Linked DNA regions of Homo sapiens. The protein of the gene in region 1 interacts with the protein of each later gene in a pairwise test. Each region holds a gene or a part of one and is shown on either strand. Other genes may lie near its edges. The genes, in order: ITPRIP and PGRMC2.

Region 1 (2,963 bases):
ATACAATCTCTTTCTTTAAAACCCAAAAGCTTCCTGTTAGTTCCAGCTCCTATATTTCTCGCTGACATTAGCTCTGTGAAATAAGGTCTTAGGCTGGAATCCACCCTACAGCCAGCTTTCAAAGGCCCTTTCTGGAGCCCTGCGGGCAGCACACAAGTTGCCTCAAAGACAGGGTAGAAATGTTCTGTTTTGTTATTTTTTAAAGTCTCCTGAAAGTGTAAGAATAAAAAGGGAGTGAAAGCTTCTGCTTTGTCAATAGGAAATCCACCCCCCTGTCCCCAACTCTGCCCTGGGAGCCTCACAGATTTCCTGAAGTTAAAAACAAACAGTGACCATTTCTACTCCTTGCAAGATTTAATTCTTCCTTTAATATAAATAAGGCAGCATGAAACACCAAGAGCCCCACTGCTTTCTGCTTTAGAAGCAGCTTTGGTGCAGAAAAGATTCCCGTTTCCCCACCGAGTTCTGTTGTCTCTGTACACACAAGAAGCCAGAAGATATTTTTTTTTCAGTGAACTTTCTCCTGGAAGCAAAGGAGAAGCTATGGGAGATCCAGGCATGGTTTTGGCTTCTGGAGGCTGTTTTTTGGTTACTGGGGTCTCTTCAAAGCAAAACGGGATCAGGATGAAGAGGGGGAAAGGCATGGGCCATAAATAAATAAGGAAATTTGCCCCGATTCTACAAATGCATCTGATGGAATGAGGAGGGTCAGGCTGTGAGGGATTGGGGGTAGCTCCAGGCTGCTGTTAGGGACACACTTGAGCTGGTTCATTCCCTGGAGTGCCCCGCAACTGCGTCTAGGGAGAGGCAGGCCCAAGCACATGTTCAGTCTAATTCCAGCTCACACTGGAAGGCTTCCTATAGGTTTGGTTGCCCTGATCACAGCCGAGCTGCCCCACCAGGAATTAACCCTGGTGGGCAAAGGGTCCATCTTCTCAAGCTTTCTGAGGCTGGTTGAGAGCACTCCTGGGGATGGGGGAAGGATCTCCTTCCTTCAGTTTGTGGGGTAACTGGGCACCCCTGTCAAGTTGGTTATGCTCTCGGGAAGGCATGGCCGGCTTAAACCCTGGAGGAACACGGTATATTCTTGACTCCCTGGCCCCCTGCAAGGGTAACTGAAGTAACGGTGAGATAGGAAATCTCAAAGGGCCAGTGAAGCCACAGGTGGAAAAGAGCCTTCCTGATCCCCCTGAACCAGACCTGGAGACGGAGCCCAGCTCCAACCACAGAGCTTCTGCCAGGCTCTTTGGGTCTGGGTCATCTGTGTGGTCAGCAGTGCCCACACAGAAGGGGTGGGTTCTGTGCAGTGAGGGAGCCCCGCTGGAGTGAGGAACTAGGGGCTCAGAGCCTGCAGACTGGAGCTAGGTTTCCATAGTTCTTGCTTCCATGCACACCCTGCCCTAGGATTGGGACCCTGAGGACAACCTGGGGCTATGACATCCTTGGCCCCTGATCTCTGCAACTTTCTCTGAACTGGGCCAGACTGCAAGCCAGACACCACCACCCCGGGTAGCATTTTTGAGCACCTCATCGAAGGAGTCTACTGTCTTACAGCAGAGACTTCGCTGCAGGACGCAGGGCCAGAAGAGGTTGAGAGGCTTGGCTCTGCGCACAGCCTCTGGGAGTGCCATGGCCTCAGGTGCCTTGTGGTTGCCAATGAAGAAGTGATAGAGTTTCTTTTCCAGCTGTCCTTTGCCACAGTCACCCCGTGTGTCTCTTTCTCCAGGTCAGCTTCCACCTTTAGCATCTGTCCTCCCCCTACCACAATGATAGTCAGAAAGACCAGCTTTGGAGAGAATAAAGAGAGGTGGGGGGCTGCTGAGCTGGCACCCAGTGTGGCAAATACCCACCACGCTCGGGACCCAGTACGTTGGGGAAAGGACAGCAGAAGGGGGTGCACCTGAGTGAGAAGTGTAGGGTGCAGCTGAGTGAGAAGTGTAGCTGAAAAAGTGGCTAATTGTGTTTCTCTATGCCACCAAGTACCCATTTCCGTGTGACAGAGACGTTAGTCATTTGGGCCTCGAATTTATACAAGGTCTTTTCTCCAAATAGTATAAAAAAGTGGCAGCCATGGTGGGACCACTATTGTGCAGGATGCGGATCAAAGGTGGACATTCCCATATCTGTCCCTGTTAGTGCTTTGGCTGCAGATGGTCAGGCCAGAAGCTCCTGGGAATAGGGGTGCTGGGTCTTAACACGGTTCCCTGTCAGCATTCTTGTAGATCCTCTGCTCATATTCAAGTACAGACTGGATCTGGGATTCAAAAAGAATTACACCCAATCCAACATTTGCATTGTCTCTAACTCAGGGTCCACAGCGTGTTCTGCCACCATCTTGGCCATTCATGGTGATCCAGAAGTAAACTGCAAGGGATCAGTCCCTAAACCCAAATAACAGCTTTACCAGCAGATCCCAATGGTATGAAGCAAACCAGCTTCCCGTTGAAATTCTGTTTCCTCTGCACTGTAGGGCTTGGCTTCCTGGCAGGCTGAGCACGGCTCCCACGAAAGCCCGCCTTGTCCCCAGAACAGGGCTGGCAGATGCCACCAGGGGTGTGAACGTGAGGGATGCCCTCATCTTAGCTCGAGGATCCCACATTCTGTAAAAGACGTCAGCTTTTTGGGGTAGGCTGGTCTGAGGGGACATGTAGGGAATACTCGCTAATGAGCGCTGGGGCATTCTTGAGCATCTCATAGAAGGAGTCCAGTGTCTTACGGTAAAGGCTTCGCTGCAGGACGAAGGGCCGGAAGAGGTTGAGGGGCTCGGCCCTGAGCACGGCCTCAGGGAGTCCCATGGCCTCAGGCACCTTGCGGTTGCCGATGAAGAAGTGGTGGAGCTTCTTCTGGAGCAAGCTCTTCTCCAGGAAGCACAGCAACTCGTGCAGACGAGCGTCCAGCTGCCCCGCCTTCCAGTCGGCGGCCTGCCGGAGGAGTAGGAGGTGCAGTAGGGCCGTCTTCAGGTG
Region 2 (3,830 bases), on another chromosome or scaffold:
ACCTTTTTTTTTTTTTTTTTTTTTTCTTTGGAGAAGGAGTCTTGCTTTCTCGGCCAGGCCGTAGTGCAGTGGCATGATCTCAACTCACTGCAACCTCCGTCTCCTGGATTCAAGCAATTCTCCTGCCTCAGACTCCTGAGTAGCTGGGATTACAGGCGTGCGCCACCACAGCCGGCTAATTTTTGTAGTTTTAGTAGAGATGAGGTTTCACCATGTTGGCCAGGCTGGTCTCAAACTGCTGACCTCAACACTGCTGCCACAGAGTTGGGATTACAGGCATGAGCCACCGCACCTGGCCTGGTTAATACCCTTTTGAATGTCAGTTGAGATGATAGAAAAAGTTTGAAGGTTACGAATATTGGCCAGTGGTAAATTGTGTTCCATATTCTTATATAGAAGACACATTTGAAAGTATAAAATGGTAGCCTATGTTAATAAGACTGATTAAATAAATTACAGGTACACATCCATTCAGTGGGATAATATATAACCATTCAATGATAAATAATTGTTGATAGTCATGTGATACGATGTAGCAATATGGAAAATGCAATAAGAATAAGAAAAGCAGAATACAAATGTACTTTACTGGAACTGTTAGCTTTACTTTCATGTTACTGTATCAATACCTATGAATGCTACTCTTAAAATTATTGCTAATGCTACTTCTAGTTCCATGCAGTAAACTTTTCAGAGAATGAATTTCACATCTGGTTAACTTTATAGTACAGTGCTGTTAGCAACTCAAATTAATACTCATAAATGCTTAGATATCTATTTAAGTGAAACCTCGATTTCTACTCTCAGAAGGTACAGAGACTTTTTGACACATAACTTTCAGTTTCCTAAATACTTTTATATATGAATATAATCATTTCGCTCATTTAAAAATCAAGGAATTTCTAGTTTTTTCTGCTTGTTTACTTATCAGAACATACTTTGTTCTTTTATTTATAAGCCCTGTTTTTCACCACTCTGTTGTTGTTGTTCATAATAGTGTCTTTGCCTACCATAAGTGAATCTGTTTACAGAATCTTGAGTTTCTTTTTATTCGGAACTACAGCTAAGTCATTTGGAAGAAAATTATTACGTTCCTACTTTATGCCAGGCACAGTGCTAGGCATTGAGGATACAAATCCTCAATTGATGAACAAATTGCTGTTCTCAAGGACAAACCTTGGGAATGGTTTTTGTCAACACATCAGTCATGCCATTTCTCCTCAGAGAGAATGGTACCCAATTCCTTGGATAAAATGCTAATTATTGCTTAATGTGTCAGTCCAGAAGAATTATTCCTTATAGCTACTTCCTCTGTTTTCCAAAAGTCATGACAAGTAAGAGCTATTATTTTCCTTAATGACTTTTCCTAGTTTATATAGATCATTGTATATATATTATGGTAGTCAGATGATTTATTTTGAATATGGGTCTTTTTTTATTAAACCACTCAGCAAAGATTTATTAAATGCGTGTTGAGCACTGAACTAGTCACTGGGACCACAAAGATGATACAGTCTCTTTTCTCATAGAATTACAACCTTCATAAGGATAGCAGAAAGAAAAATGTTACAGATTCAAGTTCAGCTGAGTCTTTACATAATACATGATGTTCTGTTGATTATTTTTATTTTTTTGATGCCACTATTAACAGCAACCAGTAAACATTATTTCCCCTCAAGCAGACTGGCTTCTAAACCTAACCACTTAAGTTTCTTCTTCTCCCTCATTACCTCACAGTCTTCATTTTGAATATTAAGTTTGGGGATATCTGAAGTAATTGAAATTGAGGGTTTTAAGATCTAAGTGAAAAGCTTTACTTGGGTCAAAAGGCAGATTTCCAACAAATTTCTTTTCTTATTCCATCTAGTATCTGTACATGTTTTGAAATTAAGGGTATATACAAATGTGAATTATGAGGGGTTTTTTTCTTTGTTGTGTTTTTTTTTTTTTTTTTTTACTTTTTCCTTTGAGACATTCTAAAATATTGTTAGGTGATCTAAATAATTTATTTTCTTTTTTCCAGCGGGTCCATATGGAATATTTGCTGGTAGGGATGCCTCCAGAGGACTGGCCACATTTTGCCTAGATAAAGATGCACTTAGAGATGAATATGATGATCTCTCAGATTTGAATGCAGTACAAATGGAGAGTGTTCGAGAATGGGAAATGCAGTTTAAAGGTATTTTTATTTTGTTGGATTCTTTGGAAAATTAAATATTTGTTCAAAGAAAATATATACTATTTTACATGCTTTAAGAGCCTAAGGATGTCATCCGTTTTCATTGCCATCATTATTTGATAATATTTTTAAAGATAGCTAAAGCTGGGTGAAGTGGCACATGCCTGTGGTCCTAGCTGCTGATGGGAATCCCTTGAGCTCAGGAGTTCAAGGACTAACCTGGGCAACATAGTGAGACTTGTCCAAAAAAAGAAATTGCAAAAAATAGCTAAATAAAAATATGATTGTTACATGTGATAATTATTTTGAAAATCAATATTTAAAAAAATGACTTGTTACAAATTCTAAGCCTCAAAAATTGTGATACTTACAGTCAGCTTCTTCATTAAGGTTTAGTTTTTTAAAAATACAGGCTTATATTTAAAACTGAGTTGATTACTGATTTCAATACTATAATTTATTCCAAAATGATTTTACAGATCTTAACACTCGAAATGTAGATAAAAAATATCTTTCCCCTTTCTTATGCCCTCATAACATCAGTTTTTACCACTTGTGTGATGCTGTCCCAGCTGTTTATCTGACCCCTGGGTCCCTTGGAACAGCTGTTCTGGTTTAGCTGGGTACTGAGATGGGTCCTGGACTTACTCATTTTTAAAAAAGATCTCCAAGTGATTCTGATGCAGTATCCAACTAAGAATCACTGGTACAGAACACCCTCTTGCAAAGAATTCCCAAGCCTTATAAGTTCCCTAATCCTGTTTTCTTTTGTTCAGGCTTTACATGTGTATAAAGACCAGCCATGGTGAAGCAATTTTAGAATATTTAGATAATATTCTAATAATCATATTTTATATGATTCTAAAACAGACAAATGCCTTTTCTCTGTATAATGGAATAGTGAAACAAATTTGATCACCACTGATTTTCTTTTGATGTATCTTTCAGAAAAATATGATTATGTAGGCAGACTCCTAAAACCAGGAGAAGAACCATCAGAATATACAGATGAAGAAGATACCAAGGATCACAATAAACAGGATTGAACTTTGTAAACAACCAAAGTCAGGGGCCTTCAGAACTGCAATTCTTACTCCCTTTCACAGACTGTCCGGAGTCTTTGGGTTTGATTCACCTGCTGCGAAAAACATTCAACAAATTGTGTACAAGATAAATTAATCTCACTATGAAGATTTGAATAACTAGACATTATTTATGCTGCCAAACTCATTTGTTGCAGTTGTTTGTAATGTCTAGTGGGGCTTCATCATCCTGAAAAGAAGGAGACAGGGATTTTTTTAAAGAGCAAGAAAGTCACAATATTACTTCTTTCCTTCCTTTTTTCCTTCTTTCCTTTCTTCTTTCTCTTTCTTTCTTTTTAAAATATATTGAAGACAACCAGATATGTATTTGCTACTCAAGTGTACAGATCTCCTCAAGAAACATCAAGGGACTCCTGTGTCACATACTGTGTTTTTATTTTAACATGGGTGAGGGAGGCGACCTGATCAGGGGAGGTGGGGGTACACATCAATTTGAGTTGTTCAGGCTACTGAAACATTAAAATGTGAATTCCCAAACTTTTCTTTTTGGCTTTGTCAGGGAAAAGAAAAATATCTTTATAAAGAAATCTTTGGAAATTAGGAGAAGG

Evidence for each region.
Region 2: the proteins of ITPRIP (region 1) and PGRMC2 interact in binary tests that used the Homo sapiens proteins (3 or more experiments, as listed by UniProt).

What each region holds. Positions count from the first base shown.
Region 1 is NC_000010.11:104,311,796-104,314,758, forward strand, and holds part of ITPRIP (inositol 1,4,5-trisphosphate receptor-interacting protein precursor), read right to left. Parts: coding exon 2,613-2,963; 3' UTR 1-2,612. UniProt on the Homo sapiens protein: Enhances Ca(2+)-mediated inhibition of inositol 1,4,5-triphosphate receptor (ITPR) Ca(2+) release.
Region 2 is NC_000004.12:128,270,711-128,274,540, reverse strand, and holds part of PGRMC2 (membrane-associated progesterone receptor component 2), read left to right. Parts: intron 1-2,023; coding exon 2,024-2,179; intron 2,180-3,127; coding exon 3,128-3,225; 3' UTR 3,226-3,830. UniProt on the Homo sapiens protein: Required for the maintenance of uterine histoarchitecture and normal female reproductive lifespan. May serve as a universal non-classical progesterone receptor in the uterus.